7 separate regions of the Homo sapiens genome follow, and all the other regions are linked to region 2. The links come from fine-mapping of genetic effects on gene expression. A gene starts in region 2. Each other region holds a variant in brackets. All regions are shown on one strand. Distances are from middle to middle. Region 1 has its middle 51 kb from the start of TBC1D9. Region 2 holds the start of TBC1D9 (TBC1 domain family member 9). Region 3 has its middle 30 kb from the start of TBC1D9. Region 4 overlaps TBC1D9 (TBC1 domain family member 9). Region 5 overlaps TBC1D9 (TBC1 domain family member 9). Region 6 has its middle 42 kb from the start of TBC1D9. Region 7 overlaps TBC1D9 (TBC1 domain family member 9).

Region 1 (4,068 bases), 51 kb after region 2:
GAACAGTGCGTTGAAAGGTCAGGGATGGCCAGGTGTGATGGCCTCACACCTGTAATCCTAGCAGTCTGGGAGGCCAAGGTGGGATCGTTTGAGTCCGGGAGTTCAAGCCCAGCCTGGTCAACATGGTGAGATCCCATCCCTATTTTAAAAAAAAATTAAGAAAGGTGCAGGGATGAGAAGCACAAAGCATTTGTGGACCTACAAGAACTTTATTGGGTCCTTGAGCCTAGTGGACATAAGGGATAAAGGCCAGCCATAAGGCAAGAGAATTAGTCATGGGCCAGCTCTGGGAAGGCCTTGGTAGGAGTATGGAATTTCTCACAAGGTACTGGGAAATCGCTGTAGAATTTTAAACATAATTAATGTTTTGCTAAAATTTACGTCCAGAATGATTTCACTTGTGGGCAGTGCAGAGAATGGATTCACTTGTGACAGTGCAGAGTAGGAAGTAAAACAGAAGGTTGGGAAACCGGTTAGAAGGTTATTGCAATGGTCTTAGTGATAGAGGATAGCAATGGCCAGGATGGAGAGAAACTTGAGAAACAAACACCTAGCCAGCCAAGCAGAGCAACCAAGTTTCTAATGAAAGTGTTAGTCAGACCAGAATTTTCTCCAACTGCGTCATTAACCTCATCACTTGCGATCTTTAAGAGGAAAGAGTATATGCTCTGGTTATTGTTCTGATTCTAAATTTTGTCCCAAAGATCAAGAGTGCAGTACCATCTTCACAGTGAAGATGCACTGGACAGCAGTGTTTAAATGGTCAACTATGGTTGGGAGGGAGGGGGTTGAGGGACCAGAGGCTGAATATTGTAGTTTCAACCAGAGAGAGTCATACATCAAAATTGTCTGTAGAGCTTTTTAAAAATAACTATGCCCGGTCCCCATCCCAGATCTGTGGATTTACAGTCTCCAGAAATGGGGCTGGGGAGTGTGCACTTTATAAAGCTCCATAGAATATTTTGATACTCTATGATTTAGAACTTTGTGTGTAGGGCATGAAATACTGAGGGCTTGAGCAGGGCTTTTCAGAGAATACAAATGTGGGAATTAATAAGGAGGTATAATTTTCAGGACTTGGCAACCGACTGGATGTGACCCAGATGGCAAAGAGAGGTTCTACAGATAGCGGTATCTGTGATCGTCCACTAGACCATTTACAACCTGGGCAGAACTTTTGTGAAAACTGGATAAAGTCACCTCCCTAAGCATAGAGCTTGGCAAGCTGAGCCAGGTGCTGCCATCAGGCCATGGGTTCTATATGGCAGTCCTGGTTTCCCACCTGGAAACAGGAGGTCCAGGCAGCATAGGTGAGCTGGTTAGCAAAGACACTGGTAGATTAAGTTTGGGTCAAAGTGTGTTGGGTAAGCAGGAAAATATTCATCTATCCTCAGGTGTTAGAGCAGGTAAGTGGAAATCCTGTTTGTTGAAGACCAAGGATTGAGCTGGGAGATATTGGCGTAGTGGCAGAGCTGAAGATCTGCATTGTTTGATACAGTCAAAGGGAAGACTGCAGATAGAAAACAGAGTTCTCTGTTACTCGAGTGTAACTGGTGACAGTTAAATTAAATGTACTGGGAAGAAACAATCACTTAGAAAGTAACCAATGATACAACAAAATTCCCTCCATAAAACTTAAATGTTATTTTCCGGAAACTTTAGCCTAAAAAGTAGTAGGAAATTCCATGGTGGGGTAACAGGTTTTATGGGAAAAGTAGGACAGAAGAACCAACCTTGGCGGAACTTATGAATATTGTCACATTTTCTAAACTCAAACAGTGGAGGGCATACTAACTAAATAGACTGTTAGTAGCATTAAACCCAGCCTAAGTTAAAGGGTGCTGGACAGCTAATCGCCGTGTACCACCTCCTGGTTGTTAGACTCTACAGGATTTCTTCCCCCATTTAATCGAGATGGTTGCAAGTTCATTTTGCATTATTGCAGATAATGTTTATTTGCATTTTAAGATATGTTTACTTTATTCCTGTTCTACTCATGTGTCCAGTCTTCTCTGATTTGGAGTTGTTTTCTCCTGCTTCCTGGAGTAACTTGGATATTTGGAAAGGAACATCTGCACAACTGAGAAGATTTTTTTTTTTAAACTCGTTTATTTATGCAGAGGGTCATGAAAACTTCAGCCAAAGAAAGCAGAGCATTGCAAACTGTTAGTTCCTCTTAGAGGTTTCAGTTCTCTTCTCCCAGAAGATAACAGCTAATAATAT[A/G]AACAACATTCTTTCAACATTTCCATCTGCTGAGTGTTGGGCTCAGAGTTTTACATATGTTGTGCTATTTACCCTTACAATAACATTGTAAAGCAGGTGATACTATCATCTCCATTTCAGAGATGGGGAAGTTGGCTCTTAGCCTAACAAATTTGGTCAAGGTCAAAGCAGTATCATTAGTCAGTGGTAGACATAAATTTGAACGCAGATTGGGCTAACCCTGAAGCCCTAAATCTTCTCTTTTAGAATTATGGTAAAAGACACATATGTTAAATCAAGTTTAGCCTAAAGCTGCCTCCTTACGTATTTTAAGTTCAGCCTAAAGGTTTTGCTGTACATTGTAAACTATAACAAGTGGAGGTGTAAACAGACCATAGCCTACAGTTGTGCCAATCACCAAGTTTTGGCCAATGAAATGTAGCCAACCGTTCGAACGGTGTTCGAATAAGGCAAATGCAGACCTGTAACCAATCCAGCTGTTTCCGAACCTCCCTTTCCTTATTCTGTCCATGAATCTTCCACCACGTGGCTGCCTGATTTGTGAATAGTTCATTGCTCAATTAAACTTCTTTAAATTTAATTCAGCTGAAGTTTTTGTCTTATCACATAGATTTACCATCTTAACCTTTTTTTTTTTTTTTTTTTTTTTTTGAGACAGAATCTTGCTCTGTCGCCCATGCTGGAGTGCAGTGGCATGATCTCGGCTCACTGCAAGCTCCGTCCCCCCGGGTTCATGCCATTCTCCTGCCTCAGCCTCCCGAGTAGTTGGAACTGCAGGTGCCCGCCGCCACGTCCGGCTAATTTTTTTTGTATTTTTTTAAGTAGAGACTGCATTTCACCATGTTGGCCAGGATGGTCTCTATCTCCTGACCTTGTGATCCGCCTGCCTCAGCCTCCCAAAGTGCTGGGATTACAGGCGTGAGCCACCATGCCCGGCCCCATCTTAACCTTTTTTAAGCGTACAGGTCAGTGGCATTACATACCTTCACATTGTTTTGCAAATATCACAACCATTCATCTGCAGAAGTTTTTAATCATCCCAGACTAAAACTCTGTACTCATTAAACAACTCTAAATTCCCGCCTCTTCCAGTCCCTGGTAACTACCTTTCTACTTTCTGTCTCCATAAACTTGACTATTCTAGGTGCCTCATATAAGTACAATCATACAATAGTTGTCCTTTGGTGTCTGGTTTATTTCACTTAGGTTCACTTAGTTTTAGCACTTATAAGGATTTCCTTCCTTTTTAAGGTTGAATACTATTCCATTGTATGTCTATTCTACATCATATTTTGTTTTGCCATTCATCTGCGGATTGGGTTGTTTACACTGTTCGGCTATTGTGAATAATGCTGCTATGAAGATGGGTGTACAGGCCGGGTGCGGGCACGGTGGCTCATGCCTGCAATCCCAGCACTATGGGAGGCCGAGGAGGGCGGATCACTTGAAGTCAGGAGTTTGAAACCAGCCTGGCCAAAATGACAAAAACCCTCTGTCTACTAAAAATACAAAACTTAGCTGGGCATGGTGGTACATGCCTGTAATCCCAGCTGCCTGGGAGGCTGAGGCAGGAGAATTGCTTAAGCCCAGGAGGTGGAGGTTGCAGTGAGCCAAGTCTGTACCACTGCACTGGAGCCTGGTCGACAGGGAAAGACTCCTTCTCAAAAAAAAAAAAAGGGTGTACAAATATCTGTTCGGGTGCCTGATTTCAATTTAAGGCCCTAAATATTAAGCACTGCTCCACAAAGCAGCAAGATCCAGCAAGGTCACAGCTCTGAGATGGAGGCTGACCAGCCTGCAGCTTCCTTTATGTAATCCAGTACGAACATAGCCTCACGGGAGAGG
Region 2 (4,068 bases):
ACATGACACCTGAATTTTAATCTTAAGAAAATTAGTTTATAAATATAATCATAAGTAAATACATATATCAAGAATCTTTATTTCATAGCACAGCATTTGAAAGCAACAATTTACCTATTGTGCAAACTCCAGGTGATATATGAGGTTGATATAAGCTCAACTCTGAGGAGGGTCAAAGTTCATCTCTTTTTTGCAGTCTCCTTTCTAGTGAAACCTCTACTATTTCTTCTGCTAACTTTTTCACTGTAAAAAGTATTCCAGTTCTGTTCATTCTAAATAACACAGAGATGGAGAAGGTCCAATTTCTCTAGTATGGTATGAGTTCGAGATTATTTCTAATATGGCACTACTTTGGATATGGGTCTGACTGATCTTATTATCCTGAATGATATGACATGGCTTCAGCAACAATTACAATAATACCTTGAAGGGAGGGGGTTTAGGGAAGAAGTGATTGAGCAAAAATAGTTAAAATGCAGTTATACAGCCAATTATTTTTACAACTAGAACCAGACAATTTGCTTTGCTTTATGTCTAATTAGGTGAAACAAAAAAATTCCTGTTTCCGTATTCATTCTCTTCGGTCATAACTCATATAGGAAATGACCACATCAGTTCCTTACTTATCGCTTCCCTGGAAACAAAAGAGCATTTTATACCTGATCCTGCTGTTGCCAGTAAAGAAAGTGGAGCAAAAATTAACCTTCTTCCATCCCTCTTTTCCATTTGGAAAACAATATTTTTAAGGGGGGGAGGGGAAGGGAATGATGCATTCAATATATAGGGGATAATACATTCCCTCCGCCCCAGACTCACTCTTTCCCATTCTCCTCAACATATCCACTTAAAGAGCGCTCAGTACGCTGAGGGCCCCAAGCCTGACAGAGTCAAAAAAAGAAGCATCTCTGCCCAACCTGAACATCACGACTCTCGATGCCTCGCATACAACGAGGCAGGGCGGGTCGCCCAGCCCCAGGGGACCGGGCGGCGTCTCCCGAGCCTGCAGCCCAGGCCGCGGGCGGCGCCGCAGCGCTCCCGGCTCCCCTCCTGCAGGGATCGGCCACGGTCCTTACCCGCCAGTCCGCCGCCGCCGCCTCCATCGCCGGCGTGGCCCTTCCTCCGCTGCAGGATGAAGTATGGGTTGGCCCTCTCGGTGATCCACAGCGCGTTGGCCAGCAACACCTCCTCCGGGTTCACCCACATGGTCCTGGCTGCCGCGGGCGGGCGCACAATGGGCCCGTGGGTCCAGTCCTGCACCCACCACCGCGACAGGCGCGCACTCCTGGGCACACGCGCGCCCGCCCGCCCGTCCGCTAGGTGCGGCGGCGGCGGCGGCAGGCGACTTCAGGGGGTGGCCCGCGGCGTCCGGGCCACAACAAAGCCCCAGCAGGCGGCCCGGGAGGACGGTGAGGACGCGGGCGCGGCAAGCAGCATCCTCCCCGCGGCGTCGCCGCCCCGCGAGAGCCCGCGGCCGCAGACGCCCGGCCTGGCACTCTGCAGCCCGGCTCCCGGCCCACGGCGGCGGGAGGAGCGGGAGGAGGAGGAAGAGGAGGAGGAAGGGAGCGGGAGGAGGAGGAAGTGGTATAGCTCAGTCCCGGGATCCGGCTCAGCGCCAGGCAGGGCTAAGGGCCACCCGAGCGGATTCGGCCCCGCGGTCAGGGCCAAGCTGGGCTCCGGCGCTGCTGCTCCCGCGGCGCCGACTGGAGCTCCAGAGCCCCTCCCGTCTCTACCTGCTCGAGCTCCCGAAGTCGCCGCGCCTTAACGCGCCGTGTCGGGGCCGCAGGCGCCACTAGGGAAGCCCAGCTCCCCGCTGGAAGGACGCTCCGGACACTGCGAATGAATGACGACAACGCGGCTCACTTGGAGCGGGTCCGGGTTTGTGCGGACTCGGTACCACCGCGGGCTCCGCGCGCCGAGCTGAGCAGCTGTGGCTGGCTTCGGGGGAACCTTCGGGGGAAGCTCCTGGGGACCGTGTGCCAAGCACTGGGCCCGACGCCCATCCCAGCAGGGAGGACGCCGCCAGCCTGCGTGGGTGCGTGTGTGCTGTTTGTGTTTAAGGTTGACGCTCTATGGGATAGCGCCACCCCTTTTCCCAGGAAAAGTGTTTCAAGGTTCCAGACCTGGAGCTCGGTTAGAGACCCGGGGTCGGAAGCCAACGCAGCCAATGGTCGTCGATGTTTTTGTTTCCTGCATCCCCAGGGCAAGTCATGCGCTAAACTTGTCACCGCTTGTGACCCCTCCCCCCTCTCCATTCCATTGTAATTAAAGTGGCCTAGCTAAGTGCATTACATCACTTCTTTCCTTGACCTGTAGGGCGTGAGCAATAGAGAAGTTGGAAGCGGCCCAAAAGCTTAGACCAACTAATTCACACCACAGCTGTTCCTATATCGCATTTGGGGCTTCGAAAACTGGGCATGGCAGAATTTTAAAATTTATCCACTCTTGGTAGATGGATTTTTTTTTTAATCAGTGAAACCAGAAACACACAAACCAGGGCAGCTTTATCCCTAGACAGTTTCAGTTTCCCCAAATACTTCGAGCTTCCAGTGGTGATCACAGCCCATCTGCCTACATATCTGATGACCATTTTTTTTTCCTCCCGCCCAGGAGATCTGGAGGATAGTTCAGCCAAAAAAAAAAAAAAAAAAAAAAAAAAAAAAGTTCCTCTTCCCAAATGATGGGAATTTAGCAGACTCTGCTTTGTTGTGGATGCTGGGCAATCCTAGGGACTTTTCCCTTTCCAAATGAGCAGAGATTCAAATGAAACCTTCTTGTGTGGGCTTCAAAATTGTGACTTTTGTAGCTCCGACTTGAATTGTTGAATTCCTTCAATTAGTCGAATGAGCAAATCACCAGCCATTCTAATGAGACTGCCATTTCATCTGTTCGCTTCCTACCGCTTGGGCTCTCAAGGAATGGAAGTTTCCCTTGATGTTACCACACAGACTGATCTGCTTCTTCCAGGCATCAGTGGAAACCTCATGTATTTAACACAGACTCAAAAAACTCATTTGGCACTTTTGGTCACAGTGCAGTGCCTTCAGTCACAAAATCTGCAAATAAAAAGCAAACAATAAGATTATAAGTCATACATATGCAAAAATTATATTAATATATCATGTAACTTTTATATTTTTGAAGTGTTTCCATAGGTATTCTTTTACTTGATATAATTGGTATTTTTAAAAACTCTAAGTGCCTTAATACCATGTTGGGGTTTGGAAAATGATACCACAAAGCATGGTGCTTTGGCATGCTGAGTACTTTGAACTAAAGGAGATTGAAAGGCCTCAGAAGCAGTTTCTCTCTGACCTCCTTCTGCCCTCCTGTCTCCCACCTCTCTTTCTCCCCCAAAGTGAGTCATGGAAACTAAAGGCAGGTCATAGAAACTAAAACCCCTCTTCCCAAAGGAAGCTACAAAACCTAGAAATATTACCATTCCTCACTCTTCTGTGTAAGAGCAGACATAAAGAATAGAGAAATAAAGAAATTATCTACCCTACCTTGTTGGATAGTAGGTCCCCTTTCCAAAGGAGTCCTGCTCTAAACCCAGGAGGAGGGAAAGCTATACGGAGAGGCCAAGAAGAATCTGAACAGACAGACTGGGTCTGTTCTCAGTCTATTACCATTGGATCTTACCCTTTTGTCCAACCACATCTACATGGCTGCCCACTCTTCATTGAACCTAAGCACAAAAATGGACAGAGCGAGACTCTCTCAAAAAAATAAACAGGCTGGGCATGGTGGCTCATGCCTGCAACCCCAGCATTTTGGTAGGCAGAGCCAGGAGGACCCCATCTGTATTAAACCAGAGAGACCCCATCTCTATTAAAAAAAAATAGACAGGTTTCCCTGGGTTTTTCCGTCTTCATTTCTGAAGGTTCCCATGTCACCTAAAACTTTGATTAAACAAATGTGTTGTGCTTTTCTCTTGTTAGCCTGTCTTTTGTTATAGGTGTGTTGGCTATGACCCTTATGGGAAGGAAAGATATCACACCTTTTCCCCTACAACAATCTTTTGTTTTTGTTTTGTTTGAGACAAAGTCTCGCTCTGTCACCTAGGCTGGA
Region 3 (4,068 bases), 29 kb after region 2:
TCTGTTCCATTGATCTATATCTCTGTTTTGGTACCAGTACCATGCTGTTTTGGTTACTGTAGCCTTGTAGTATAGTTTGAAGTCAGGTAGCATGATGCCTCCAGCTTTGTTTTTTGTCTTAGATTTGACTTGGCGATGCAGGCTCTTTTTTGGTTCCATATGAACTTTAAAGTAGTTTTTTCCAATTCTGTGAAGAAAGTCATTGGTAGCTTGATAGGGATGGCATTGAATCTATAAATTACCTTGGGCAGTATGGCCATTTTCATGATATTGATTCTTCCTACCCATGAGCATGGAATGTTCTTCCATTTGTTTGTATCCTCTTTTATTTCATTGAGCAGTGATTTGTGGTTCTCCTGGAAGAGGTCCTTCACATCCCTTGTAAGTTGGATTCCTAGGTATTTTATTCTCTTTGAAGCAATTGTGAATGGGAGTTCACTCATGATTTGGCTGTTTGTCTGTTATTGGTGTATAAGAATGCTTGTGATTTTTGCACATTGATTTTGTATCCTGAGACTTTGCTGAAATTGCTTATCAGCTTAAGGAGATTTTGGGCTGAGACAATGGGGTTTTCTAGATATACAATCATGTCATCTGCAAACAGGGACAATTTGACTTCCTCTTTTCCTAATTGAATACCCTTTATTTCCTTCTCCTGCCTAATTGCCCGGCCAGAACTTCCAACACTATGTTGAATAGGAGTGGTGAGAGAGGGCATCCCTGTCTTGTGCCAGTTTTCAAAGGGAATGCTTTCAGTTTTTGCCCATTCAGTATGATATTGGCTGTGGGTTTGTCATAAATAGCTCTTATTATTTTGAGATATGTCCCATCAATACTTAATTTATTGAGAGTTTTTAGCATGAAGGGCTGTTGAATTTTGTCAAAGGCCTTTTCTGCATCTATTGAGATAATCATGTGGTTTTTGTCTTTGGTTCTGTTTATATGCCGGATTACATTTATTGATTTGTGTATGTTGAACCAGCCTTGCATCCCAGGGATAAAGCCCACTTGATCATGGTGGATAAACTTTTTGATGTGTTGCTGGATTCAGTTTGCCAGTATTTTATTGAGGATTTTTGCACTGATGTTCATCAGGGATATTGGTCTAAAATTCTCTTTTTTGGTTGTGTCTCTGCCAGGCTTTGGTATCAGGATGATGCTGGCCTCATAAAATGAGTTAGGAGGATTCCCTCTTTTTCTATTGATTGGAATAGTTTCAGAAGGAATGGTACCAGCTCCTCTTTGTATCTCTGGTAGAATTCAGCTGTGAATCCATCTGGTCCTGGACTTTTTTTGGTTGGTAAGCTATTTTTGCCTGAATTTCAGAGCCTGTTATTGGTCTATTCAGAGATTCAACTTCTTCCTGGTTTAGTCTTGGGAGGGTGTATGTGTCCAGGAATTTATCCATTTCTTCTAGATTTTCTAGTTTATTTGCATAGAGGTGTTTATAGTATTCTCTGATGGTAGTTTGTATTTCTGTGGGATCAGTGGTAATATCCCCTTTATCATTTTTTATTGCATCTATTTGATTCTTCTCTCTTTTCTTCTTTATTAGTCTTGCTAGCGGTCTATCAATTTTGTTGATCTGTTCAAAAAACCAGCTCCTGGATTCATTAATTTTTTGAAGGGTTTTTTGTGTCTCTATCTCCTTCAGTTCTGCTCTGATCTTAGTTATTTCTTGCCTTCTGCTAGCTTTTGAATGTGTTTCCTCTTGCTTCTCTAGTTCTTTTAATTGTGATGTTAGGGTGTCAATTTTAGATATTTCCTGCTTTCTCTTGTGGGCATTTAGTGCTATAAATTTCCCTCTACACACTGCTTTGAATGTGTCCCAGAGATTCTGGTATGTTGTGTCTTTGTTGTCATTGGTTTCAAAGAACATCTTTATTTCTGCCTTCATTTCGTTATGTACCCAGTAGTCATTCAGGAGAAGGTTGTTTAGTTTCCATGTAGTTGAGTTGTTTTGAGTGAGTTTCTTAATCCTGAGTTCTAGTTTGATTGCACT[A/G]TGGTCTGAGAGACAGTTTGTTATAATTTCTGTTCTTTTACATTTGCTGAGGAGTGCTTTACTTCCAACTATGTGGTCAATTTTTGAATAAGTGCGGTGTGGTGCTGAGAAGAATGTATATTCTGTTGATTTGGGGTGGAGAGTTCTGTAGATGTCTATTAGGTCTGCTTGGTGCAGAGCTGAGTTCAATTCCTGGGTATCCTTGTTAACTTTCTGTCTCCTTGATCTGTCTAATGTTGACAGTGGGGTGTTAAAGTCTCCCATTATTATTGTGTGGGAGTCTAAGTCTCTTTGTAGGTTTCTAAGGTCTTGCTTTATGAATCTGAGTGCTCCTGTATTGGGTGCATATATGTTTAGGATAGTTAGCTCTTCTTGTTGAGTTGATCCCTTTACCACTATGTAATGGCCTTCTTTGTCTCTTTTGATCTTTGTTGGTTTAAAGTCTGTTTTATCAGAGAGTAGGATTGCAACCCCTGCCTTTTTTTGTTTTCCATTTGCTTGGTAGATCTTCCTCCATCCCTTTATTTTGAGCCTATGTGTGTCTCTGCATGTGAGATGGGTCTCCCAAATACAGCACACTGATGGGTCTTGACTCTTTATCCAATTTTCCAGTCTGTTTCTTTTAATTGGAGCATTTAGCCCATTTACATTTAAGGTTAATATTGTTATATGTGAATTTGATCCTGTCATTATGATGTTAGCTGGTTATTTTGTTCGTTAGTTGATGCAGTTTCATCCTAGCCTCGGTGGTCTTTATAATTTGGCATGTTTTTGCAGTGGCTAGTACCAGTTGTTCCTTTCCATGTTTATTGCTTCCTTCAGGAGCTGTTTTAGGGCAGGCCTGGTGGTGACAAAGTCTCTCAGCATTTGCTTGTCTGTAAAGGATTTTATTTCTCCTTCACTCATGAAGCTTATTTTGGCTGGATATGAAATTCTGGGTTGAAAATTCTTTTCTTTAAGAATGTTGAATATTGGCCCCCACTCTCTTCTGGCTTGTAGAGTTTCTGCCAAGAGATCAGCTGTTAGTCTGATGGGCTTCCCTTTGTGGGTAACCCGACCTTTATCTCTGGCTGCCCTTAACATTTTTTCCTTCATTTCAACTTTGGTGAATCTGATAATTATGTGTCTTGGAGTTGCTCTTCTCGAGGAGTATCTTTGTGGCATTCTCTGAGTATCTTTGTGGCATTCTCTGAGTATCTTTGTGGCATTCTCTGTATTTCCTGAATTTGAATATTTGCCTGCCTTCCTAGATTGGGGAAGTTCTCCTGGATAATATCCTGCAGAGTGTTTTCCAACTTGGTTCCATTCTCCCTGTCACTTTCAGGTACACCAATCAGACGTAGATTTCGTCTTTTTACATAGTCCCATATTTCTTGGAGGCTTTGTTCATTTCCTTTTATTCTTTTTTCTCTAAACTTGTCTTCTCACTTCATTTCATTCATTTCATCTTCCATCACTGATACCCTTTCTTCCAGTTGATCGAATCGGCTACTGAAGCTTGTGCATTCGTCACGTAGTTCTCGTGCCATGGTTTTCAGCTCCATCCGTTCGTTTAAGGACTTCTCTGCCTTGGTTATTCTAGTTAGCCATTCATCTAATCTTTTTTCAAGGTTTTTAACTTCTTTGCCATGGGTTCAAACTTCCTCCTTTAGCTGGGAGAAGTTTGATCATCTGAAGCCTTCTTCTCTCAACTCGTCAAAGTCATTTTCCATCCAGCTTTGTTCCGTTGCTGGTGAGGAGCTGCGTTCCTTTGGAGGAGGAGAGGCGCTCTGATTTTTAGAATTTTCAGTTTTTCTGCTCTGTTTTTTCCCCATCTTTGTGGTTTTATCTACCTTTGGTCTTTGATGATGCTGACGTACAGGTGGGGTTTTGGTGTGGGTGTCCTTTCTGTTTGTTAGTTTTCCTTCAAACAGAAAGGACCCTCAGCTGCAGGTCTGTTGGAGTTTGCCAGAGGTCCAGTCCAGACCCTGTTTTCCTGGGCATCAGCAGTGGAGGCTGCAGAACAGCGAATATTGTTGAAGAGCAAATGTTGCTGCCTGTTTGTTCCTCTGGAAGTTTTGTCTCAG
Region 4 (4,068 bases), 39 kb before region 2:
CCTGAAGATAGCTTGAAACCTGTTTTGAAAAACATTGATAATAGGTTGGACACAGTGGGTCATGCCCATAATCCCAACATTTTGGGAAGCTAAGGAAGGAGGATTGCTTGAGCCCAGGAGTTGGAGACCAGCAAGGGCAACACAGTGAGACTCCTATGTCTACAAAAAGTTTTTTAAAAATCAGCTGGGTGTAGTGGAGCTTGCCTAGAGTCCCAGCTACTTGGGAGGCTGAGGTGAGAGAATCCCTCGAACCTGGAGATGGAAGTTGCAGAGAGCCATGATCGTGCCCCTGTACTCCAGCCTGGGTGACAAAGCAAGACCCTGTCTCAAAAAAGAAAAAAAAATATCAATAATGGATGAGAAGAAATCATCATTGGCAATAACAAAAGTAGTGTACTAGAGTTGGGGGCCCTTCTTTGCAAAGTAATTACAAAGTCATTTCCAGGAAACCATTCTCTTTTCATGCTATAAACTTGTCACAACAGAGGGGTAGGATACCAACAGTATCACTGACTCCTTACATCCTCAGTTAGAAACTGATGAGCAAAAACACAAGGTGGGAGAAATTATTTTTATATTATTGATTAGTGAATGGGGAAATTTAAAGTAATGAAGAACTTACGTTTTTTTCACCCTTAATTATATTGTCTACACCTAGTTCCTTAAAGCAAAAATCACACACACACCCACACCCTCTACAACCCACTATGCTGATTTAAAACATGCTCATTTAAACTGAGTTTAGAGTAATGGGGGCTGTAAAAAAAAAAAAAACACAAACAACAACAACAACAAAAAAAGCAACTCCAGGTTTGGTCTCAACCTATCTCTGCATTTAATAAAACAATAATACAATGAAAGACTTGGGTTATATCAAAATAAATATTTTGAAACTTTTTAAAAGACAGTCACCTGCAAGAATTTATTTTATGCCAGTGTTTCTCAAAGAATATCCTCTTTGAATAAACAAAGGTTTCACTTTCTTCCTCACGTTCTGTTACATCACCCTAAATAAAAGTCATAATCCTTTAGAGAATCAACATATGTTACCTGAACCAGGAGATGCAGACAGGAGCTTTTGCCCAACTTTCCTGTCTTGTTTTGGAGCCGGAGTTGGGAGAGGGGTCAGGAAAGAGAGAGGGAGAGGGGAAAAGCCCAAGTTGTTGTTTTTAAAATTTTCCAGTTATAAAAACAACAACATTTAAGCTGCTTCTTCTAACCGTAGAGGCCTTCCTGTTCAATAACTATGACATAAATGATTCAATAATGGCAATGATTCTTTGTTAATGGCTAATTCACCATGCATAATCCTTTTAGACATGACTCAGCTTTCCTGTTGGGACAATATTTCATTTATGACTATCAAATTAATTTATCTGAAGCATATACTGGGTACAATAAACCTTCACTTTCAGCTGAAAATGGGCAAGGGCAGCACTAGGCATCTCATCTCAGAACTTGCTGGCTTCAAAACTTTTCCTTTGCTGGTGGAAGGCCGGGGCCTCTATGAAATCTAGAACACAGATCAGGGAAACAGATTCTTTCTACAGCTCAGGTGCAGCGTGAAGATTATGTGATTGGGACAAGTATGTGTTTCATGTTCTCAGGGTTCCCACTGGGTAGAACACAGTGCAGTCATGAAAGACAGACTGGAAAGCCATGGTATCCCCAGGAGCCCCCCAACTTATTTCTTTAAGTCTACAGGTCACAACTTCCCAGTGGTACCCCAGGAAATGATGACAAGCTAGCAATATACTTGTTCTCTTGGCTCTTAGGATACCTTTTGTGCCCTGCAAACACTATCATTTTCTAAGTATGCTATGATATGAAAATAGGTAGAAAGCTCTGTATTAGAACAAATAAAGCATAAAAGCATTTTAGATAATAGTGCTTTACTCTACAATATTTCTATACATTTAATTTCAATGCATACTGATGGGATTCAATTGAGTAATTAGTATATACTAATTCAATTGAGTAAATAGTATATAGTTTCCCCATAGTTTGCTTTTAAAAAGTTAAATGAAATATGCTTTATTTTATTTAAATGTGATATACCTAGTTTTTTTTCTGTTCCTTTTTTCAGAAAAAAAAAAAAAAAAAGTACATTCAGCTATGCACATTGGGAGGTGACTCACAGGACATTTGCCTGATCTTTATGCTAGTTCTTTGAACATTTTTATTAAGACAGAACAATCCCCTCTTTGCAAAAGTGTGAGGATCTCTGGTCTTCATTACTCTCTCCTCTGAATGAACCCTGAGGAAAACAGAGTCAGAGCTACCCTATATAATCCTCCATGTAATAATTACCCCACATAAACCCAGGGCCTCATACCTCCTTAGCTCTTCCCAGACAGTCCAATGAATAAGCAACAACA[A/T]TGACTGAACATTTTCACAACGAACAAGCCACATGATTAGGAAATTACCAACATGGCTATTTTCAAATAATTTCCAGAAGATCACCAGGGAAACCCCTAGAAAAACTAAGCTCATTTAACTTAAATCCGAAAGAGCACCCAGCAGTCTAAGGAAAAACATTTAGATGTTTGTTCTGGCCTATTTCTATGACAGCAATAAGAATGTCCCTAATATTCCTACCTAGTGTTGTGTAAAGTAATCAGAGAAAGTGGATTCAGTCTTGGCCTGGTGGCTCACACCCGTAATCCCAGCACTTTGGGAGGCCAAGGTGGATGGATCACTTAAGGTCAAGAGTTCAAGACCAGCCTGGCCAACATGGCAAGGCTGTTTTTATTTTTGTAAAAACACAAAAAAAATTTGTATTTTTAGTCTCTACTAAAAATACAAACATTAGCTGGCTGTGGTGGGTGCCTGTAATTCCAGCTGCTCGGAGGCTGAGGCAGGAGAATCACTTGAACCCAGGAGACAGAGGTGACAGTGAGCTGAGATCATGCCACAGCACTCCAGCCTGGGCGACAGAGCAGGACTCCATCTCAAAATAAATAAATAAATAAATAAATAAATAAATAAATAAATAAATAAAAGAAAGTGGATTCAAGTCTTCATTTCCCCACTCACAAGCTGTGTGGCTTCAGACAAGTCACTTAGCTTCTCTGAGTCATAGTTTCCTGCCACTACATCAGGGATATTTCATCTTCCCTGCTAGTCTCCCAGGGCTGCTGAGAAACAGATGACATACTGTGTATGGGAGTGCTTCAAAAACTGTAGAGTCTCTCACTCATGTAATCTAACTAGGATTTTTCTTTAAATAATGCTTAATTTTGGAGCAGGGAAGGAGCGTCAAGACATAAACTTGCATCTTCTTTTTCTACAGAGAAGGAAGCTGGGCACTGGAAGGAAGTGCTTGCTAAAGTTATGTTCTGAATCCCAGGAAGTAGTCACCATGATTATTAGTGTCTAGAAGAGGTAAAGGAAAAATATGGCCTTAGTCCTGGAGGCATGATGTGATTTCATCCTTAGCATCATGAAATAGACACTGAGCACCTGTGGAGAGGAAGCTTTGCTGGGCACTAGAAATATAATCTATCACTGATGTCTTTGAGAATAGGATCTGGCTGCGAAGAAAGAAGCAGCACATACAAATAGCAATCATTAGAATGGTCATTTGCTCAGTCAGTTCAAGGGTACATAGCTCAAGGGTAATACAGAAGATGTTACACGGTACTTACCCAAGGCTGGCATACTCATGCAGGAGACTGTTTTGAACTGCCTCCTGGAGTTGGGTTTGGTGGAAGGTAGCTTTTCAAAACCACAGGCTTTGCATTAAGAACCTGGGTGGAATCCCTGTTCCACTGCTTCCTAGGGTCATGACCTTGGGGCAAGCTATATAACTGATAAAAACCACAATTTCTTCACCCACTTAATGAAGATAATAGTATCTTCCTGAGAGGTTGTAATGAGGATTAAAGGAAATATTGCACATGAACCAATTTTGCACAGCACCTGGCACTTGGTAGGTGTTCAATAAATAGTACCGATTGCGGTGGCTGAAGGCAGCCCCCAAGGTGGGAAGGCACATGGGATGTGTGGGGAGCAGTAAGTCCATCAGCTCAATAGCAAGGGAGTGCTTGAAAGGTTTGGGATAGACAT
Region 5 (4,068 bases), 110 kb before region 2:
GCTATATATATATAGATTTATTTTACTTTACCGAAAGACATATGCTAGAATATTAATAGTGACACTATTAACCAAAAGTCAGTAACCACTCAAATGCTCATGCACAGAATGGATAAAGAAATGGCAATATCATCACATAATCAACTATTTTGCAGCAATAAAAAGAACAATATATTTAAATCTTACAATCATAATACTAAGCAAAAAAAAAAAAAACAAAAAAAAACAGAAGCAAAAGAGCATATTCCGTGAGATTCCATTTGTATCAAGTTCAAAAGAAATCAAAGATCATCTACGCTTTTAGAAGTCTGGAGATTTATTAACCATGGTTGGATGGACAGTGATATGAAAGGGGCACAAGGGGCACTTCCAGGTTGCTAGCACGTTCTATCTTTTGATCTGAGTAAACAGTTACATGAGTGTATTAAAACAGAGGCTTTAAAAAGAGTGCCTTTGTGAGCCTTTGACCTCTTTATCAATACCTACTCCCCAGGAATTTGCAACCATTTTTATCACCTCCACTTTTTGTTTTATTGTTGTTGTTAAAAATGAACTCAGTATGTTTAATAAAGTTTGGTATTATCAAAATCGCAGTACAAACATCAAGTCACACGCCCACATGACAGAATTCCATTTATAAAATGTTTCTCGGGAAGCCCCCACTGGGCCCGTGCCCAAAGAGAGCCTGACCACAGCCTGGGGTCTCTGGGTGGGCAGAAAAGGTGAGTATGGGGGTGGGGAGGAACTCGGGGTAGGGGGAGGAGGGCGGAGAGGAAGGAAAGTGGAGAAAAATGCAGACTCAGAAGCAGTCCATATAACAGCTCAAAAAGAGCTAGCCGGCGATATTATCACAACGATACAGTACAAATCAAAGCAAAAATAAAAATAATTTGGCCGATACAGCAGGCTACACTGCCAAGAACCCAGATGGCGGCCTTCCTGCGGCCATCCGCACGGGCCTCCTCACCCCCCATCTCTCCCGTGCGCCCACTCGCTTCCTTCTCGCTCACTCGCAGGCACTCTCTCGCTAGGAAACACAGAAAGTATTTTGTGTTTGGAGATAGTAACCTTAGTCAAATGAATCTTCCGAAGAGTCGCTGAAGGAGGAATGCACCTTAGCCTCTCGAAGCAGCAAACAAAACCACTGCTTCCTGCTGGTGGCTGGCTTAGGTTTCAGAGTCCGGGAGGGGGCGGAGGAGGGGGTGTGTGCCAGGCCCTCTTGGTCAGCTAGGGGCCGCCAGCTGCCTTGCTGTCCTTTGCCACCATGCCACACAGGAGGGAAGGCATCAGTTTGGAGCTAGCCGGAGGGGCCTTGGGCGGGCCACTCTCCTTCAGGAATTCTTCGTCTTCCTCTGAGTCTGTATTGTAAGAGTAGCTGCTCACTTCGGAGGCAAACGCGGAATGGGCCGACTTGGGCTGGCCTCTGGCCTTGAACCCCACCCCTATCTTCCTGGCTTTGGCGGCCCTTTTGTGTTTACCTTCTCTGGAAGATTTCAGAGACAGGCCGGAGGCCCTTGGCCAGCACCTTCCTGTCCTTGCCCAGCAGGCTGTCATAAGGAGTTAAGTACTTGCTGCAGCCCCTGCCAGTTTTTGATTTCCCCCCAGCACTGTCTGAAAACTTGAAGGGTGACTTCAACTTGTCCTGCTTGGTGAGGGAGAGGGCCTTTGTCGAGCTTGCTTGCCAACTGCTCCTGGTCGCTGTCCATCTTCTTCTTCTTAATCTTCAGCTGACTTATGAACTTAGACGAAGCCTCGTGTTCATCCCAAGTCTGGTTCCTCTCCCTGGCTTTCCCTGTTCCAATAAGGGCATTGTGTTCCTCCTTGGGCCCTTTGTGTCTCTTCCTTATTCCTGCTCCCAGCTCATAGTCATCTGATGTCGGCAGAGATTTGCTGCTCAGCTTTCCGCTACTGTTGCAGTTCTTCCCCCTCTTGCGGGCGGGCGACAGGGCTCTCGGGGGCGTGGGTCTGTTTC[C/A]ACGGCCTGCGTGCCAAGCTTCCATGGGACTCCTCGTGCCTGTCCTCGGAGTCCCGGCGCCGCTGCAGCTTCACCAGCTCATGCTGCTTCTCCTTGTACTGGTGCTGGACCTCGGCCCGCCACATTCTGAAGTCCAGTTCCAGGACGTCCATGTCCTCCACGGAGGACTTCATGGGGTACATCCGCTCCTCCTTCTTGCGCATCCAGCTGTACTTATTGTGGGCTTCAGCTCCCGTGGGAGCCGCAGGTTCTTGAGCGGGTCCCACCACGGGCCCATCCAGCACCTCCCTCAGCATGTGGCTGCCGGCTGCCAGCAGGCTCTCCAGTGAGGGCCGAGCCACCAGGGCCCGCTCCGCACCTCCCACCTTCTTGCTCCTCCTCTCCAGCTCCAGCTCTGCGATCTCGCTCAGCAGGGTGATGCCGTGCAGAAAGCTCTGCTCCAAGACAAGGCTCTCGGCAGCTTCCTGCTTCTCCAAGGCCTGGACTCCAGTAGCACCTGGGGAGGGCAGAGGCCTGGCCTGGGGCAGCTCCATGGCCACCTCCATGCCAGCCAGTGGGTCTTCCAGGCCGGGCAGGAACTGCTCAGAGCTTGCCTCTTCCAGGTAGCAGGTGCTGCCGGGCACAGGCACGGCCTCCCGGGGCTCCAGTCTCGGGCACTCTCCCTCCCCGGCGGGCACGTCACAGTCTGACATTTCTAGGCTGGGCTGGGGCTCGCTCAGGGCCGCCTGGGCCAGGCCTTCCTCCGGCGCTGCCTCTGCCGCAGGAACCGCCACAGGCACCTCCACTGGCTCCTCCTTGGCCTCCACTAGCGTCTCGGGTGTCAGCTGCACCCCCAGGTCCAATGCGGCCGTGCAGGGTTCTGTCCGGCCCGGGGAATCCACGCATGCTTCAGGCCCCTCCGCAAAGTCTGGGCACTCAGAGGGCTCGGTGCAGCCCTGCCCGGTGGCACTCAGCGCCTGGGCCTCCAACGGGCCACCTCTGCATCCGCCTGCAGGGCTCGGGGTAGCCATGGTTTCCATGGCGGGCAGTGGCAGCGGCAACTCCAGAGGCGGCAGCTCTGCGGGGCGCTCGTCCACATCCTCCACCTCCACCTTCGCCTCCTGTTCAGCCAGCGGCTCTTCCTCCGGGTCCTCCCGCAGCGGCTCTGGGATCTTGGAGGGGGACAGGAGGATGAGCTTGTCTTCGGGCGAGAGTGTCAGGCGCTTGGTCCCATCAGCTGGGAGCAGCACATCAGGGGCCAGGCCATCCGCATCGGCGGCCACTGTGGGCTGCCCCAGGAAAGGGTAGGGCCTCCCGTAGTGTGGTGGCAGGGCTTGGAACGGATACCTGGGCGGCATATCTGAGAACAAGGCCTGGAAAGTGCTGGGGGCTTCCTTATCCAACTCCAAGTCCTTCTTCTCGACCACGTTGTCGGGGGTCTCTTCCTTGCGGGTGATACCCGGGGTGGACAGCAGGGAGTGGGGAGGCAGGCTGGTGGGGTGGGAGCTAGGGGTAGCAGGGTAGGTGTAGGCAGGCGCCTTGGACACGTCCTCCAGCGGCTGGATGACCTTGGCCTTCAGGGCGGCCATGGGGGACGCGCGGGGCGATGGCGGCGGGCTCACCGCCTTGCCATAGATGCTCGCAGGGCCGGCAGCCAGGCGGGGGGCTTTCGCAGCAGCATCCCAGGGCAAGCGGTGGCCAGGCCAGCCTTGCCCCCGGCCCCCAGGCCCCAGTTGCTCCACTTCTCCTCCATCTCTGCCTGGTACTCCTCTGCGCCTTCAGCCGCTCCAGCTGGGTGCTTCTTTGCAGTTCCAGGGCCTGGGCCGCCCGCTGCTGCAGGTACAGGAACTCCTGCAGCTGCAGGAAGTGCTGCAGCGAAAAGAGCTGCAACTGCTGGGCCTGGTGCAGGGGGCTGCAGCCTGGAGAGTACAGGGCGGGGCAAAGGGGCAGCACGGTGGCCCGCTCCATCAGCTCCGCAAAGTGAGGCAGGTGATCTCTGGGAATGACCAACAGCTGGCCCGACTGGGAGTCCCTGACAAACTGGTAGGGCGACAGCAGGGAGCCCCCAGGCTGGGTGGGAACGCAGGGGCCATGCCCTAGTGCAGAGATGGAGGTCC
Region 6 (4,068 bases), 42 kb after region 2:
CTTTTTCTTAGTAGGTTTCTCAGCATGTTTTACAATCTTTTTATCAGGAGGCCATTTTTCTACACTGAAGTAAATTAGGACATTGTTTCAAATGAAAGAAAAGGAATTAAAGGATGAGAACATGAGATCATATATGGAGACATATGACAAGATTTCTTCAGGTTGAAGGCCAGGCACGATGACTCACGCTTGTAATCCCAGCACTTTGGGAAGCTGAGGCGGGCAGATCACCTGAGGTCAGGAGTTTGAGACTAGCCTGGCCAACTTGGCGAAACCCTGTCTCTACTAAAAATATAAAAATTAGCCGGGCGTGGTGGCGCATGCCTGTAATCCCAGCTACTTGGCAGGCTGAGGCAGGAGAATCACTTGAACCCGGGAGGCAGAGGTTGCAGTGAGCTGAGATTGCGCCATTGCACTCCAGCCTGGGCAACAGAGCAAGACTCTGTCAAAAAAAAAAAAAAAAAGTCTCTTCCTTCTGTTTCATTGAAGCTAAAGTTCAGTTCCTGCTGGACTCCTTCCCTATAGCGATAGTTATTACTGAATAAAATCTATCCTTCTGGCTTTAGCTAGTGTCCAGCTTAGTTCGTCTTTGACAGTCAGATTGTTGCTTGCATTCAGCTTTTCCTGTTCTCCGTAGCCCTTGACTTGGTCTCATTCCTTATCACATTTTCGTACTGAAAATTGGAAGAGCAATGGTCAGACTCTCCTGAGAAAGGATGAACCTGGTTCACTCTGAAGCACAATAGAGGGTGTGTGTTAGCATCTGGCTAGGTTGTAGTCATTAGCATATTATCTGATTTTTTTTTTCTGAATGGTTGACTCAATGTTGGGTAAGACTTAATAAAAATTCATTTTATCTGCTCTCCTTTTTCTCTCTTTCCCTCAATCTTTACAGTTTTCCCCCCTTAACCTTGCATCAGGGTGTTCCCAGGATATTGTGTCGGGGGTCTTAACTTACATTTGATGTATGAAATGAAATGCATTTTCCCAACATAGCTATGCTTAAGTAGAGCAAACTTCTGTGTTTTAACCCTCCCCTTTTTATGCCAGTTGAGTAGGGAGGAAGGAACATCCAGAGTAGAAGCCTCTGGGACATTGCTCCCTTGAGATTCAGGGTGAAGACTAATATCATTAGTCAAGGCCAGATGTGACTGGGTTTCTTGCCAAGAGATTGGTGAGAGCTTATCTGGGGATGGAATGACTTGACTGGACGTCTTGCCAACCCTGGAGTAACCCTTGTTGGCGGGGGGGAGATCCAGTGTTAGAACCAACGAGCTGGAGGTTGTGGGTGAGCACGGAGTCACACCATCTGCAATTCAAGTCAGTGACTGTGGATCTCCCAGACTCCCCTGCCCATCCGAAAGTGCCCATGAGCTGTGGTTATCAAGGACAAACTACCAGATGGGTGACTGTGCCAGCAGGACCAGCAAAATGGAAGCTGAGGAGCTGAGGAGCCTAACACCAACCACAAAACCCAAACTTCCCAGAGAGATGAAATTATTCACCCAGAAACCACACAGGAGATGCTGCAGGACACTTTGAAATGTACTTAGTGAATACCCGGGAAATTTCACCTATGCTGCAGGCACTGTGTTAAATGCTTTGTGTACGTGATCTCATCTGATTCTCTCAATATCCTAAGTGGGTAAGTTCCATTACTACCCCATTATAAAGAAAATGGAGCTGAGAAAAGGTACGTAATTTATCTAAGGGTGTACTCTTTTTTTTTTTTTTTTTTTTTTTTGAGTCAGGGTCTCGCTCTGTCACCCAGGCTGGAGTGCAGTGGCACGATCTCGGCTCACTACAACCTCCACCTTCTGGGTTGAAGTGTTTCTCCTGTCTCAGCCTCCCGAATAGCTGGGACTACAGGTGTGTGTCATCACACCTGGCTAATTTTTGTATCTTTAGTAGAGCTGGGGTTTCATTATGTTGGCCAGGTTGGTCTCATCTCAAATGCCTAGCCTCAAGCATCTGCCCACCTCGGCCTCCCAAAGTGCTGGGATTACAGGCATGAACCACTGCACCCAGCCAGGGTGTACTCTTAGCAAGTGGCAGAGCAAGGACTGGAATGC[A/C]TGATGTAATCCCTTGCTACTTCTCTGGTTTTATATCCTTACCAGGCCATCTCTTGGTGACCCCATTGAACTTCTGGCTCTTCCTCTCAAAGCCAAGCATGCTCTCCACTAGTCCTGAGTGTGCTCTTTCCTCTGCTGGGCTCCCCTTCCCTCTGATAACTGAGTGGGTTTCTCCTTCCCTTCAACCAGGTCTCTGTTCAAATATCCCTTTTCAGTGAGGTCTTTAGCTCTCCTATCTAGAATGGCATCCTTAACCCTTATTGATCTTTATCTCCAACAGCCTGCCTCATTTTTCCTTTTAGTTTAGCAGCTGTTTATTTCAGCCTGGACCTCTTTTTTTTTTTTTTTTTTTTTTTTTCTTTTAGAGATAAGGTCTCACTCTGTTGCCCAGGCTGTGGCTCAATCGTGGCTCACTGCAGCCTTGGATTCCTGGGCTCAAGTGATTCTCCTGCCTCAGCCTCCCAAGTAGCTGGAACTACATCTGCATGCCACTACACCCAGCTTATTATTTTATTTTTTGTAGAGATGGGGGTCTCACTATGCTGCCCAGTCTTGTCTTAAACTCCTGGCCTCAAGCAGTCTTTCTGCCTCAGCCTCCGAAAGTGCTGGGATTATAAGCATGAGCCCTCACGCCTAGTCCATGGACCTCTCTTCTGAACTCCAAGCTGTGATAACCAATTTCCAACTTGACATACCACTTGGCTGTCTATAAACTTCCTCGAGTTTACCATAAACTTACAAAAATGAGCCCTGATCTTCCTCCCGCCTTCCTTCAATCTGTTATTCTTGCAGTCTTCTTTATTTCAATGAATGGCACCTCTAGTCTTCCAATCCCTCAGAGCGAAAGTTTAGGGTCACCTTTCACTTCTCTCCTTTTCTCATTCCTCCTGCCCAATCTGTCAGGAAATCCTGTTCTCTACCCTCAACTTAGATCCCGGCTGCAAACACTTCACACTGCCTCCATGGGGTTCCCCCGGCCTCATCACCATCACTGCTTCTCGCCGAGATTATTGTGATAATCTCCTCACTGATCTCCCTGCTTCTGCTCTAGGTTTCTTCAGCTTATTCTCTGCATAGCAGCCAAAGTGATCTTTTAGAAATATGAGTCAGATCATGTCACTTTTCTGCTCAACACCCACCAATAGGTTCCTGTCTCATTTAGAGTAAGAGCCACAGCCCTCACAATGGACTACCAGATCCTAAACTCTCTGGCTTTAGTTGCCTTTCTGACCCTATCTCCTAGATAACTGTAGTATGTATTGGGAGAATGAATTAATCAATAGTATTTATTATATATCTACTTGTTTACATGATTGTTATCTATCTCTTCTAGAATATAAACACCATGAGTACAGAGAATAGCAAATAGTAATACCAAATCAATATTTACACAATGAATGAATACACAGGTAAACCCAGACCATCTGATTTCAAAGCCCATGAGCTTAATCCACTATACACCACACCACAAAACAGATGGGCTTTAGGTCATTCCAATTTTATTATGCACTCCAAATCTTCTGACCTTTCCCAATCATATATATATATTTTTTTTTTTTTTTTTTTTTTTTACTTCTCTGTAGCAATTTGACACTAGCAATCTGCCTAGTTTTCTCTCTTAAAGGAGGTTTCTTGGCTTTATGTTTTTCTTCCATGCTAATGGTTACCAAATTCATTATTTCAAGTTCCAGACCTGGATTTTTAAATAGCTGCTGTGATGCGGCCTGGCTTTCCAGAACCAGTAAGAAAACTCATGCCAAATGCTAGCACAGAGGATGACGCCAATGAGGATTAGTTCCCTTTCCTTTTGTCAGGACAAAGAAAACACACAAGTTGGTTCAACTTTAAGTTGGGACTGCAAATGGGGGAGACAGGAACGCAGGAGAGGGGGACAGCTCTTTGGGCAGCTGAACATTTCCCACAGTGTCTGCTGTGTGGGCTGCCCCCTCATTCACATTGGAATGGGGAAGTGAAAAACATCTCCTGTGCCCGCTCC
Region 7 (4,068 bases), 51 kb before region 2:
ACATAAATGCATCACTCATAATTGAGTGTTTGTAATACCTCTCACATCTTGAATCAAAATAAGAAATAAAATGCTGAAACTACTACAAGTGTCATATATGTTGGTTCTAAGGCATACAAACTTTAGTCTGGGTTTAGAGGGTTGCAATCAAGAATCAGCCTGTGGGCTAGGCGCGGTGGCTAATACCTGCAATCCCAGCACTTTGGGAGGCTGGGGCGGGTGGATCACTTGAGGCCAGGAGTTCAAGACCAGCCTGGCCAACATGGTGAACACCCTTCCCCATTAAAAATCCAAAAAAAATTAGCCAGGCACAATGGTGTGCACCTGTAATCCCAGCTTCTAGGGAGGCTGAGGCAGGAGAACTGCTTAAACCTGGGAGGCGCAGGTTGCAGTGAGCTGAGATCATGCCACTACACCCCAGCCTGGGCAACAGAGCAAGACTCTGTCTCAAACAAACAAACAAACAAACAAAACAAAAAATCAGAAAAAAAAAAAAAAAAGAAAAGGACAAAAAAGAATCGGCCTGTGTGGTTTAATAAGCCTCTGAGTATCATCAAAGACCAAGACTCTTCCAAGGGCAAGCATAATTGACTGGGCAGGGCAGAGCAGCGGACAGGGGCAGTCCTGGTTCTAGAATGCTTCAATTCTGACTCTGCCACTTCCTCCTGGAGCCTCAGTTTTATCATCCTTAATGGCTCACTGAACTTTTGTCCTCTGTAACACAAAAGAAGGAAGACCTCTGAAAAGGTCTAACCCAATCCACATATCTCCACCACCACAATGTTCCCAACTAAAATCCAACCTCAACATAAACTATTCTAATTAACAAAGCCTCTGGTGTCAATTAGAGATAAAGAAAACCCAGTTGCTTAAAGCAGAGCCCCCTGGAGTGAGGGTTTCTCATTAGATGCAAGTTCACCAACCCTACCTCTGCATTCACAACTGGCGCCACCAACTTCCACTAAGACTTGGATGAAAACTAACAGATATACATGTACGTAGCACAGGTACATGCTGAAATATTTTCAAGTAAATTACAGAAAGTATAATATCAGGATATTCACATTAGATACATTTAAATGAGAGAATTTCTGTGAAAATTCCCTGAACATTTAAGGCACTGGATATCCAAACAGAAAGTAATATTGTGAATTGAGGTATGCAGTTGGCCAGTCAAATCAAGAAACAGACTCTTTCCATATTAACCCAGAAGTGCTGAGTCCTTTCATGCCTGGATAACACTGATCACTCAAAATGTTGTGCTTGTCTGTCTGCTCTTGTCTCCCCCGACCTCAAACAGCAGCAAACTCCTAATCTTTTAATGCCGTCTCATTCCTACTCTACTCTTCCTCCCAGTTCTGCCTCTATAATGCCTATTACATTTGTTTAAGATTACTTGCACATTTTGCCTTGTCCCATTTTTTCCTCTTCTCTCCAGACTGAGAGTTCCTTGAGGGCAGGGTCTAATTGATTATTTTGGACCCACAGGCCCTGCACTTTGGAGTCCAGTAAGCACTAAACACATGGTTGATGATAAATGGACAAGTGAGGGGTGTGTGC[ATG/A]TGTGTGTGTGTGTGTGTGTGTGTGTGTGCGTTTTAAACCTAAATAATAAATTATCACCATGCTATCTAAACTCTGTTGGTACATGAAGTCAAGACCCTGGGAAAAAGGAAATACTCCTCCTTTGTCCTCTATTGATGTAGAATACTAGGAGATGGGAAATCTGGTCTAGAGAATCCCCCCGCCCCACTGCAAAAGCAGCAACAATTACGATTTTCTTAGAAGTCTCATTACTCATACCTTGGAAATGGCTGTCAAAATACTGAACCTTTTCTTCATTTCCCACACAAAGCGCTGTTTTAGCAGCTGTTCTAGTCAGCTATTTCTGGTGTTAAACAATCTTGATTGCCTAAGATAACGAAATCAAATTACAGCCCTCAAAATAACTCTTCTCTGCATCTACCTATTACATTAGTACAGTGGCATCTTATAATGTAAAAGTGCTGTTTTCAAGGAGATTCAGAAAACACTTGGCAAAATTGTTCCATATTTGCTTCCCATTTGGTTGTGGGCACTGGAAGATGTGTGATGCACAGTCACCACTGCACAACTGCAGCCTAGCTGGGAGCTGGTACAGGTGGCAGGTCCACAGTGCTGCAGAGAAACCCCCGTCAGCCCTCTGCAGGCCGGGCTATGTCAGGAGTGTGCTGCCATGCAGAAATGTGCTCATGGAAATGATCGATCCATCTACTGATGATCAGGGCTAAAGTTAAACTGGACAGGATCCTAAAGATCACTTGGCCTCCCCGACTCCATTAGTCCTGACGCTGGTCCAAAATGAAGCAGAGATCCAGGAAATCCATGGCAGAGTGGTCAGGGGAGTGGGCTCAGCTTTGGCTCACATACCAGCCAGTCCCTTAATCTCTCTGTGCCCCTGCTTCCTGATAAAGAAATAATAGTATCTACCCTAGAAAGTGCTTAGTATGCACTAAGCACTATTGTGTAATGAATCATTCAAAACAATAGAAAAGTACAGGAAATTACAAAATACATGTACCACTACTCTGACTTTTTTAACACTTTGCCTTACCTGCTTCCGATCTATTTTTTTTTTTAACAGAAAGAAAAGGTAACAGCCACAGTGAGGTTCCCTTTGCACTCCTTTAATCCCATTTCCCTCTCTCCATTAACCATTCTTAAATTGTTTTGTATTCTTCCTATCCAGGTCCTTATACTTTTACTGAGCCATGTTTTTCATATAAAAAATTTAAAACTGATGAGTATTTTACAAATTTGTCTGCAAGGTACACTGCAGCTTATTTTTTTCAATCAATATGTTTGTAAAATTTATCCAGAATATACTTGTAAATCTGATTCATTCATTTTAAAATATTGTGCAATATTCCACTATATAAGTATATTACAACTTATCTGTTTTCCTAGTAAAGGACATTGGATCTATCCACACTTTTTGCTCTATTATGCAACTGTAATCGTATTCTGTTTGCATAAATCCTTAAGCACCTAAGCACATTTCTTTAGAATGGAATTGTCAGGTCCTAGGGTAAGTTCATTTCTAAACCTTATTAGATATTACAAAATTGCTCTCTAAAGTGCTCAAGAAAGTGTGAGAATACCTGTTTCTCCATAATATCTCCAATACTTAGTATTACCAGGTTTTTTTTTTTATTTTCACCAATCTCTAGAGTGAGAAATGGTACCTGTTTGTTAGTTAAATTTGCATTCCTCTGATTACTAATTAATTTTCTTGTTTATTGGCCATTCCAATTTCCTTTTTTGTGAGTTATTTGCCTTTCCCATTGTGGTGACATTTGCTAAGAGGTCCCATTAGACATTCAGAGTTCACCATCTAGAAGCTTCCATTTATATACATACTGGATTTCCATTCATTTCAGCAAATATTCACTGATCTCCCTAAAGCCAGAGATGCAGTATCCTTGGATTTACTTCTTTATATATCTTCTATACACATGCAAGACTTTTGGCTCAGTACTTCCTCTCCAGTGCATCACTTCCATGCCTGGCTTACTATCTGCGAAGATGGTAGGTTTCTGTAGGCCACCTGCTGCCACCTGTTCTTCTGGCTGCTGCTCCTTAGATGTAAGTGATACATTCTCTAGAAGTCTTAACACTTACATGATACTGGTCAGAAAGTAATTAAATGGAAACATTCAGAAGCAGCTGCTGACATACCTACAAACTCTCTAGCCATACCATAACTTTTACACTTCTTTAATGAGCCTTGTTTGTCTGCTTGTTACTTTTTAAAGCCTCCAAGGCTTTGTACAAGTGTTTCTCATCCTGGCAAACTTCTATTTCCCTCAATATCCAGGTCAAGGTCACCTAATGCATGTGTCCCTGTTTTCTCCGGCACGCTCCCAACCAATGTTCTCAACACTCAAGCCCCCCAAATCTCCTGGCAATTAACTGTTAGCTTTTTTGGGTTCTGCCAACCATCTTGACTTATATTACACTAAGGTAATTACTACATTGTTTCCTACTTCAAAAAAAAAAAGTATGGTTTCCTCCCACCAGACCCTGGGCAAT

The links.
Region 1: its variant is fine-mapped to the expression of TBC1D9 in whole blood (TOPMed, PIP above 0.99).
Region 3: its variant is fine-mapped to the expression of TBC1D9 in whole blood (INTERVAL, PIP above 0.99).
Region 4: its variant is fine-mapped to the expression of TBC1D9 in whole blood (TOPMed, PIP 0.92).
Region 5: its variant is fine-mapped to the expression of TBC1D9 in testis (GTEx, PIP above 0.99).
Region 6: its variant is fine-mapped to the expression of TBC1D9 in whole blood (TOPMed, PIP above 0.99).
Region 7: its variant is fine-mapped to the expression of TBC1D9 in whole blood (INTERVAL, PIP 0.93).

Annotation. Positions count from the first base shown.
Region 1 is chr4:140,805,823-140,809,890 of GRCh38, forward strand. No RefSeq gene overlaps it. Among named protein-coding and RNA genes, the nearest start is that of TBC1D9, 51 kb to the left of the region's middle. The variant A/G (reference allele first, on the strand shown) is at 2,224.
Region 2 is chr4:140,754,843-140,758,910 of GRCh38, forward strand. It overlaps TBC1D9 (TBC1 domain family member 9), which reads right to left and starts at 1,543. Exons shown (of 21, transcript NM_015130.3): 1 at 1,074-1,543. The coding sequence starts at 1,203. RefSeq lists a silencer at 896-1,585 and enhancers at 1,241-1,883, 1,884-2,525, 2,016-2,065.
Region 3 is chr4:140,784,016-140,788,083 of GRCh38, forward strand. No RefSeq gene overlaps it. Among named protein-coding and RNA genes, the nearest start is that of TBC1D9, 30 kb to the left of the region's middle. The variant A/G (reference allele first, on the strand shown) is at 2,003.
Region 4 is chr4:140,716,162-140,720,229 of GRCh38, forward strand. All of the region lies in intron 1 of TBC1D9 (TBC1 domain family member 9), which reads right to left. Among named protein-coding and RNA genes, the nearest start is that of TBC1D9-AS1, 6.0 kb to the left of the region's middle. The variant A/T (reference allele first, on the strand shown) is at 2,379.
Region 5 is chr4:140,640,889-140,644,956 of GRCh38, forward strand. The region is part of intron 13 of TBC1D9 (TBC1 domain family member 9); the gene reads right to left. It also overlaps the pseudogene TNRC18P1. Among named protein-coding and RNA genes, the nearest start is that of TBC1D9-AS1, 69 kb to the right of the region's middle. RefSeq lists an enhancer at 2,706-3,379. The variant C/A (reference allele first, on the strand shown) is at 1,973.
Region 6 is chr4:140,796,844-140,800,911 of GRCh38, forward strand. No RefSeq gene overlaps it. Among named protein-coding and RNA genes, the nearest start is that of TBC1D9, 42 kb to the left of the region's middle. The variant A/C (reference allele first, on the strand shown) is at 2,073.
Region 7 is chr4:140,703,952-140,708,019 of GRCh38, forward strand. All of the region lies in intron 1 of TBC1D9 (TBC1 domain family member 9), which reads right to left. Among named protein-coding and RNA genes, the nearest start is that of TBC1D9-AS1, 6.2 kb to the right of the region's middle. The variant ATG/A (reference allele first, on the strand shown) is at 1,561.